Linked DNA regions of Homo sapiens: region 1 is reported to be linked to region 2. The links are microRNA targets in miRTarBase. Many come from high-throughput screens and were not tested one by one. Region 2 holds a microRNA gene; the other region holds the end of a gene's coding sequence.

Region 1 (5,000 bases), not on the chromosome of region 2:
GCCTCCACCTCCCGAGCAGCTGGGACTACAGGTGCGAGCCAACTTGCCTGGCTAATTTTTGTATTTCTTATAGAGATGAGGTCTTACCTTGTTGCCTGGCTGGTCTTGAACTCCTGGTCTCAAGAAATCCCACCCAAAGTGCTGGAATTATAGACTGCTGCACCATGCCGAGTTTAATTTTTTTTGAGACAGTTTTGCTCTTTTGCCCAAGCTGGAGTGCAATGGCGTGATCTTGGCTCACTGCAACCTCTGCCTCCAGGATCAAGTGATTCTCCTGCCTCAGCCACCCAAGTAACTGGAATTACAGGTGTGCACCACCACACCCAGCTAATTTTGTATTTTTAATAGAGATGGGTTTTCATCATGTTGGCCAGGCTGGTCTCGAACTGCTGACCTCAGGTGATCCGCCCACCTTGGCCTCCCAAAATGCTGAGATTATAGGCATGAGCCACCATGCCCGGCCCCAACTTTAATTTTTAAAGCAATTGTAGGTTCACAGAAAAATTGAACACAAAGTAGAGCTAATTCTCATACACTCCCTGCCCCCACGTGTGCATGGCCTCCTCTGCTATGAACATTCCACATCATTATGGTACTGTGTTAGAACTGATGAACCTGCATTGATACATAATCACCCAAAGTCCATAGTCTACATTAGGGCTCACCCTTGGTGTTGTACATTTACATTCTGTGGGTTTTGACAAGTATATAATGACATGTATTCACCATTGTGGTATCACAGAATAGTTTCACTGCCTAAACATCTTGTGCTCTGCCTATTCATCCCTCCTCCTTCTCTAACCCCTTGCAACCGCTGATATTTCTGTCTCCATGGTTTTGCCTTTTCCACAATGTCAGATAGTTGTTAATTATGCATGTAGCATTTTCTTTCTTTCTTTTTTTTTTTTTTTTTTTTGAGACGGAGTCTCACTGTGTCGCCCAGGCTGGAGTGCAGTGGCACAATCTCAGCTCACTGCAAGCTCCGCCTCCCGGGTTCATGCCATTCTCCTGCCTCAGCCTCCCTAGTAGCTGGGACTACAGGTGCCCGCCACCACGCCCAGCTAATTTTTTTTTTTTGTATTTTTAATAGAGACGGGGTTTCACCGCGTTAGCCAGGATGGTCTCGATCTCCTGACCTCATGATCTGCCTGCCTCAGCCTCCCAAAGTGCTGGGATTACAGGTGTGAGCCACCACGCCTGGCCGCATATAGCATTTTCAGATTGGCTTCTTTACTTAGTAGTGTGCATTTAAGGTTCTTCCATGTCTTCTCATGGCTTGAAATCTCATTTCTTTTTAGCGCTGATTATTCCATTGTCTGGTTGTATCACAATTTGTTTATCCGTTCACCTACTAAAGGAAATCTTAGTTGCCTCCAAATTTTGGCACTTATGAGTAAAGCTGCTATAAACATCTGCATGCAGGGTTTTGTGTGGACATGATTTCAACTCATTGGGTAATTATTATGGAGCACAATTGCTGGACCATATAGTAAGGGTATGTTTAGTTTTGTAAGGTTGCTGTACCATTTTGTATTCCCACCAGCAATAAAAGAAAGTTCCTGTTGCTCCACATCCTTGAGAGCATTTGGTGTTATCAGTGTCGTAGATTTTGGTCATTCTAATAGGTGTGTATTGGTATCCCATTGTTGTTTCAGTTTGCATTTCCCTGATGACATATGATGTGGAACATCTTTTCATATGCTTATTTGCCATCTGTATCTCCTCTTTGGTGAGGTGTCCAGGACTTTTGCCCATTTTTAAATCAAATTTTTTGTCCCTTATTAAGTATTTTTTGTATATTTTAGATAGCAGTCCTTTATCAGCTATGTCATCACCACCATCTAGATCTTCTCCTATGTTATCTTCTGAAAGTTTTGTAGTTTTGCATTTTACATGTAGGCCTATGATCTATTTTGAATTAATTTTTGTGAAGGGTACAGGGTATGTAACTAGATTTCTTTGCATGTGGATGTCCAGTTGTTCCAGCACCATTTGTTGAAAAGACTATCTTTTCTCCATTGTATTGCTTTTGCTCCTTTGTCAAAGATCAGTTGACTGTATTTATATGGGCCTATTTCTGGGTTCTCTATCCTGTTCCACTGATCTGTCTTTTTTGCCAGTAGCATACTGTCATGATTACTGTAGTTTTATAGTAAGTCTCAAAGGTAGTGTTAGTTTTCTGACTTTGTTGTTCTCCTTTAATATTGTGTTGGCTATTCTGTCTTTGGCTTTTTTATAACCTTTAGAATAAGTTTAATATCCACAAAATAACTTTCTGGGATATTGATTGGGATTGCATTGAATCAATAGATCAAGTTGGAAAGAACCGCCATCTAAACAATATTGAGCCTTCCTATTAATGAATATGAAATATATCTTCATTTGTTTAGTTCTTTGGTTTATTTAATCATTTTTGCAGTTGTCCTCATATAGATCTTAGATACATTTTACTAGGTTTATACCTAAGTATTTTATTTTGGGGGTGCTACTATGAATAGTATTGTTTTTAATTTCAAATTCCACTGTTTGTGGCTGATATATAGGAAAACGGTTGACATTTTTTAGAGACAGGGTCTTGCTGTGTTGCCCAGACTGGAGTGCAGTAGCTATTCATGCAGCAATCATAGCTCACTGCAGCCTCAAAACTCCTGGCTTCAAGTAATCCTCCTGCTTCAGCCTCCTGAGTAGCTGGGACTACAGATACATGCCACTGCACCTGGTTTGATTGACTTTTGTATACTAACCTTGTATCCTGCAAGCCTTTATAATCACTTATTAGTTCTATTATTGTTGTTGTCAATTCTTCTGGGTTTTCTACATAGACAATCATTGCATCAGTAAACAAAGACAGTTCTATTCCTTCCTTCTCAATATTTATACCTTTTATTTCCTTTTCTTGTCTCACTGCATTGGCTAGGACTTCCAGTACAACTAGGACTTCCAGTGCAATGTTGAAAAGGAATAGTAAGAGAAGACGTCCTCGCCTTATTCCTGATCTTAATGGGAAAGCTTCTAATTTCTCATTATTAAGTATATGATGTTAGCTGTGGTTTTTTTGTTAGCTCATTTCTTTATCTAGTTGAAGTTCTCTATTCCTAGTTTCCTGAGAATTTTTATCATGAATGGGGTTATTTTGTCAAATGCTTTCTCTGCTATTGATAAAATTCATGTAATTTTTCTTCTTTAGAAATGTTATTTTCAAATGTTGAACCAGCTTTTCATACCTGGGATAAATCCCACTTGGTCATGGTTGAAATTAAATTTTTTAATACTAACAATAAAATTGATAATTTATATATTTGTAGGTGCTTAAAATTTTACTAAACCCCAAAATCCCATTAATGGCTCCTAAAACCTCACTTTTATGAATTTAATTCTGATTTTTTTGGGCCAAGAATTTCTCAGAACAAGTACTCCTTCAGGAATTTGAAATCTCCCAATTTATCAAAATATTAGTATACTTTTCAGAGATCCACCCCCAAATTCATATATTCTGTCTATACATGCAAACACATAATTTACACCAATATTTTACGGTTAGATTGGTATAAAACAGTAGTCTCAGAACAGGGTACAAAATGTCTTTATATCTTCAATCTCATTATACAGCAAAAGAGGGAGGAGGAAAAAACTAGGAGACATAGATAGATACACTGATGGATGTTTCAAAAATTATTTTTATTGTTACATTCCAAAGAGGACATAGGAAGAAAAAAGCCAGTTATCCAATAATGGTTAGACCTTTCAGAAGAGGCACCCACAACCCCAGCCCTAGTTCAAAGCTGCACACATTGGAGCTCAAACAGCTGCCTCTCACCACGACCGGAAATGCTGACAAATGTGTATATATTATCAATCCAGGGAGGCTTGGGTTTAAAATAAAATTTCTTTATTGCAAGTGTCCAAGTCCTTAGGATTTGTCCTTAAAGGTACTAGAAGATGAGTAAGACCACACACACCAAGACTATGTTTAGTCTTTAGAGTAAACTAGCAAATGGCCAGTTTGTTCTAGGATGCATTGCATCAGACATCACAGTACATGAAGAAAATCTGCTTTTTGTGAAAAGCCACCAGGCATTTTAGATCCCGTTTACCATGAAGTGCAGACACAGCAGATACCCAGATAATACAGTCAGTGCAAAAGTCAAATGAGTAAGTCAGCTCTTTGATGAGGCTGGCTACACTGCAAAATATAAATGAAACTCGAAAATAGAAGGTAAGGTCTATTTACAAAAGTTTGTTTAGTAAAGTGACTTGAAAAAAGTTGTTAACCACTTCCCAGGCATCCCTCCCCTCTCCCACCAAAACAAACAAACAAAAAACAACAACAACAAAAACCCTGAAAATTATCTTGAAAGTCAAGTTAAAACTATGTGGTGAAAAAGAGAGTGCTTGTTCCAGGTAAAGGACTTCAAGATAATTTACAGGCAGATTTATTTTTATTAGTAAAAGTCACAAATAGGAAAAGACTTATTGGCTGACTTTGAGCTGTGTGCTTTTAAAAATGTCTCTATTATTACGTTAACAAGAAAAAAAAATCAAGCAAGTTTTTGCTTCCAGTTTTGAATCTTCCAGCAACAGTTGGTGAAATCAACAAGGTATTAAAATGAAACCCAGCAAAACCCAGTCAGTTCTTTCCAGTTGTCTGCCTGTTTCTTTCTAGTCACCTTGAATTCAATTCCCAATTAGCTGAGGACAACATGCCGGTCAAAGACAGACTTTCGCTGCTCTTGGACTTGAAGCTTCCAGCGCTGCTGTGCATATTCTACCTTGTTCAGCACGTTGGCTCGACTGCGGGAGCGGGCTAGCACATCGTGTGCATTTGCAAAAGGCTGGTGATCCTAAAAGTCCAGGAATGGAGAACATTAGAGATGGCACAGTCAGTGTAAAACATAGACACACAACAGTGACCAGCCCGCCACAGAAATAGGGGTAGGTGGACTTTTCAAACAACAGAGCATCTATTTAGCTAAGCACTCCTAAGCGCTCAACTACCAGAT
Region 2 (5,368 bases):
AGAAGAGGTAAGGATTAGTGATTGGAAGGAAATATGAAGGGAATTGTGAGGATGGATGAATTTCTGTTTCTTGATTAGGGTGTTTATGTGCAATTTTTGAAGTCATCAAACTGTATACTTATAATATTTGCTCTTTTCTTCATATTCTACCTCAATAAAAATGTGAACATATGCATGAACATACATACCCAGATACGTATGTGCCTGAGTGTGTGTGTGCGCGTGTGTGTGTGTACAGGCATATAAGTTTGTAAATTTAATCCAGTATCAAAACTCAATGAAAACCCATTTTTTTCTAACGTGGCTGTGACTAATTATTTAAGGATTGCAAACTTACTAAACAGTCCAAAATCTTTCAAACCAATTTAAATCAAAGCATAATATTATCGAAAGATTTAAATTTATGCATCACTTTTCCGTGATGGAATGCTAAGTAGATCCTATCCAATGCTTACTTCAGATCCACTTCATTTCCAAAATGCCACTGAAGCATAAGTTAATTAAATTACATAGATTCTAGGCAGTGATGGGAAAAGTAATATTTGATTAAGTGCATATGCCTGCAAAAATCCCTCCGTTGCCATACGTGCTGATACATCAGCTGCTTAACTGCTGGCATTTTTAATCTATCCAAAAGGAAGACATATTTAAGTAGGTTAGTTATTCCTTGGCTTGTGAAGTGCTATCATTTTTGTTGTTTGCTAATAGTCCTGTAAGGCAGAATTCATTCAAAGCCAGACAGGAAATGCAATGACATAAAACCTGGTATTTAGAGTGCATATGCTCAGAATTCACAGCGATACTGTGTCGTAGGTGGTGGTTTCTTGCAGGCATTGCATTTCTCTTGATTCATGATAATGTTTGAAGCTTTGAAAGTGAAATTGACTAAAATTAATTCTACTTGTGAAACTGCCCTCCGGAAAACTGTTCATGTCTATGTGTATCAATGTGCTAACATAGCAATAGCATTTAAAGGCTTGACAATAAAGGCAGTTACTAACAAATAAAACATTAGAAAGGGCTTTTTTAACAAGTAAATTTCAGGGGAATGGTTTCAAGTTTAGACAGAATTATATACAAGTTCCCAGATGTTCATATAAATATTAATATATCAGTTATTTTCTATTTGACTCAATTATGCACAAATCAGCACATAATAATTTAATCAAGCTCTTCATCTCTCTTTGACAATACATTGCATCATGGAGTAGAGAAAGAATGTGAAATTCAAGGTGGCTAGTCTACTGCTAAACTCTGATGAAATGACACAGAATAATGATTTAACCACCAAACTAAGAAAAATCCTTCATTTTCATGTACATTTTACCTATGTCCATTCACTTATCTAATGATCCTATACATATTTATCAAGTATTAGTATGTGCAGGGCTATGTCTTCGTTGCTAGAGATACATCTTGTGACTCACCAATTCTCTGTCCTCATGGAGTTTCTATTCTAACGGGGAAACAGAATACTGGCAGAAAACAAACCAGTAAATACATCATGTGTCAGATATTGATGAGACACGTGGAGAAGAATTAGGCAAGGTAATTTGCATAAAAATTGTGAGATGAGATGGAGTGCTGATGTTGTTATTTTAGTTGAGGGATATGGACAGGGTTACTCGAAAGGTGGTATTGGAGTAGATAACTGAAGGAAGTGAGAGATACCCACGTGGATACCTGAGGCAGGGCTGCTCTCAGAAACTCACCTAGAGTTTGCCATTAAGCTTGCCATTACTACTTTCAGAAGAACTCAGAATATTAATTTACTTTCTCCACATTCCCTACAGTATGGATGAAGAAATATCACCACGTTCTTTTGTTTGTCTAGACACACAAAATATCTACAGTAGTTGGAGGTACAGACAGAGCTGGGACTAAGGCTTGATTCACCTATTCATAAGCCAGGAAGGAACTCTTGGTTGAATGTAAAAAACAAAAAATATGGTCATATTGCAAACAGAAAAAAAAAAAGTCAGCTTCTAAAAGGATAAAATATAGGGCAAGTTTCTTGGCAGGATTTTAAATGATTCTGTGGAACTTCATTATGACATATTTGTCCCTAAACATTATATGTAAGTTTTTATTTTTAACATGTGCTTCTTCCTCTTAGAATGTCTGTTTACATACTCTTCTTGTGCATTTTAAAAAATTTATCTATAATGTGCAGTTAAACTTTTCAGCGCATTGTTTCCCGAAAACTCCAAGCTGAATTGTTCTCGGTTCTTTGTGAATTATTAGGTCAGTGCAAAAGTAATTGCGGGTTTTGCCGTTGCTTTTAATGGTAAAACCCACAATTATGTTTGTACCAGCCTGATCCTAAGCAATCTCATTATCGTCTAGATTCTGCCACTTTTCATTGTATTATTATATCTATTTTTTCACTAACAGAAATAATTTTTAGTGTCCCTAATGTTTAGTGTTGTGCATATTTTAAAATCTTAATGTTTTCCAAATAAATAAATGAACACGAGATTAACTTACAGGTAGAAAAATGTATAAAACCTCATCAAAAATGATGGCTCTCTAATCAGTATCCTTGCTATACATTGTAAAGGGACATTAAGTATCCACCCAGCCTTTAGAGGTGGAAGACTGGCTCTACCACTTAATGGTTGTATAATAGTAAACACTTTGGTAAGCCTCAGTATCCTGAGTTCTAAAATAAACATATAAATGGTGTTTGTCCCAGTGGTCTGTTTAGGGTCACAGTGACTAACGTATATAAAAGATATAAAAGTGTTTTGTAAATTTTAAAGTGTTTTTCACCTCTTCATTTTTATGACTAATTCTAATATTATCTTATATTTGAAAAGCATAGGGACATAGGAAGGAATTAACCGTGTAACAGATAATGAACTAAAAATTTTCTTAAAAATAATTGACTGAAAAGATATATTGGGTTGAACCTATACTAGTATAAATAGTAGTTCAATAAATCCAAGCTAATTATTGGAGGCAAGAAAACTACAGTGGAAATCTTTGTACTTATCATGAAAGAAGCCTTGTAAAATTTATACAGGAATAACTGTCAACTCCATCACATGCAGGGGGTACAGAATGAGGTAGAACAAAGACAGATACCTATGGAAACTGAGAAGGACTCAGATGGTCTCGTTACTATATGGAACCAAGTTTCTGCTTAGTGACAAATCAGAAATTTATTATGTTTTCTTGTCAGGAGATGTGTACTCAATTGCTGATTATTTCAGAATTAAACCTATGCTAATGGTTTACTATCAGATCCATGTTAATTAAAAATTTAAACTTGAAAATGATTCTGAGATGTCCTTGATATGTGAAGTGCTATTTTAATTTGTTTTGAAACATTCTCCATAATTACAAGCTATACAGAAAAAAAGATCTGATTTTTTTAGTCTTCAAGTCCACAAAAATAGGGACTAATAAAGAAAAGGAAGAACCAGAATTACTTTATATAATTCAGTCAACTTTTTGACACACTTGTAAAACTATTATATTTTAGAAATGTGCAATTAATAGGCATTTTCATGTTTTATACACATATTAAGATGGGTAGTTTTTGTTTTGATGCTATAGAAACATATTTGATCAATATTTTCTCATGGTAAAGCAAAGATTTTCTCAACACACATCGGCAGCACGTTCTTCACATTCATTTGGTCAGGAGATTTTTGTGAATAAATGGGATTTCACATTTATTCTTATATTCATAATAAAATATAAGAATTAGTGCACTTGGCCAACCGTGTAGATTATCCACTTCAGCATTTTGCCTCTGACAAGCAACAAGAAATATATTGTCGAATGTACTGTCTTCTACCTGAATATTACTCTAAAAATTAAGCAGTACATGCCCAAACTGTTGATTTTTTTCAGACTACTCCAAATTCAAACTGTGTCAATTCTGACTAGAAAACCAAACCTCATAAAATTATTATACTATGTCAAGTAATATTTCTTTTTATTTGCCCTCAGTTTTCTTCTCTGTTGGTTCAAAGGAGATTCTTGTTAACTGAATTCAGTTGAAATATATCCTTAGCCTTCATAATTGCAGAATCATTCTTTCTTCAGCTTCACAGTTTTTTTTATCTTTTCAGTCTAGAGTCTACATCATTTAAGTCTGTCCCCAAAAGGCAGACTCTGTCCCTTTGATGTTTTTTGCATGCTGTGATCTGGACCTCAAAACCTTTCATTTTATCATTCTTGTGCAACAATACATATAGAAGAAGCAGGTATAGACTCAGTATTTTGCAGAAGAAAAGCATTTTGTGTGTGTATATGTTTTAACAAATTATATACATTTCTAATGATGTCAATGTTGTGATTTTTAATTTAAAAAATTAAGACCATTTTGAATAGAGTAACACATTAATTTTCTTTTTTTCTTTTTTTTTAACAATGAGAACACTTGGACACAGGAAGGGGAACATCACACACAGTGCCTGTTGTGGGGTGGGAGAGGGGGGAGGGATAGCAATAGGAGATATACCTAATGTAAATGAGGAGTTAATGGGTGCAGCACACTAACATGGCACATGTATACATATGAAACAAACCTGCACATTGTGCACATGTACCCTAGAACTTAAAGTATAATAAAAATATATAAAAAAAGAGAAAATACAGAATCAAGAAATAAATAAATAAAAATAAAACAAAACAAAAAAAGTAACACATTAATTTTCTTAAGAAAGTAATTCCCTAAACCATAAAAATGTCCTGGTAAATATGTAATCAAAGAGATGATATTATAAGCAAAAAAGTAAAACTAGAACAATCAAATAAACACAATGCTAGGGTAATGTTCTTCTTCCTTAGGAAAGCCAGGTGAATAAAAATGAATATTCATGAATTTGTTGAATCTTGAAACAATTTTTAGCATCTCAGAAATAAATTTGCCTTTTTTATAAATGCAATGCCTAGTAATCTCCAACTGTTGTCCAGTCAGTTATTTGTATCCACTAGTGACTGTCTCAAAATTCTCCTTGACTTCTTATCAGGAAGATGGGGAATAATTTTTTTCCATCTGATAGGTGTGGAACAAAGCAGCCTCACCCTGAGGCTGACTTCAGTATGTCAAACAAATGGCTGTTCTCTCACAAATAAATGACAATAAGCCTGTTGGTTGCTTTCTGAATTCACACTGATAGGGCTCCCTTCCAGGGCCCTGAGTGTGCAGCTGTTCCTTCTTAACACAGACTCAACAGGTTCATGACATTATTTTTTAATGGAGTTTCTATAGAAATTATGTTTTAAAAATTCTCATCTGCATGAGATATGTTTGAATCTCATATATTGACATGTACACATTAATTTAAAATTAGAACTTTTCAGCATTAAAGAGGGACAAGCATTAAATATTGTACATTAATTTATATACATT

The links. The annotated mature microRNA hsa-miR-548as-3p reads UAAAACCCACAAUUAUGUUUGU and lies in region 2 at 2,289-2,310, shown strand. An mRNA with a match to its seed (bases 2 to 7 or 8) in the 3' UTR can be bound and repressed. Matches are read on the target gene's strand: a 7mer-m8 pairs with bases 2 to 8, a 7mer-A1 pairs with bases 2 to 7 and ends in A, and an 8mer does both.
Region 1: the mRNA of TMEM9B is a reported target of hsa-miR-548as-3p. Seed matches in the 3' UTR shown: 7mer-m8 at 4,619-4,625 and 7mer-m8 at 4,334-4,340.

What each region holds. Positions count from the first base shown.
Region 1 is chr11:8,943,635-8,948,634 of GRCh38, forward strand. It overlaps TMEM9B (TMEM9 domain family member B), which reads right to left. Exons shown (of 5, transcript NM_020644.3): 5 at 3,568-4,841. The coding sequence ends at 4,686. Among named protein-coding and RNA genes, the nearest start is that of ASCL3, 3.1 kb to the left of the region's middle.
Region 2 is chr13:92,487,911-92,493,278 of GRCh38, forward strand. It overlaps MIR548AS (microRNA 548as), which reads left to right and starts at 2,253; the gene lies at 2,253-2,310. The region is part of intron 7 of GPC5 (glypican 5); the gene reads left to right. The region is part of intron 1 of GPC5-IT1 (GPC5 intronic transcript 1); the gene reads left to right.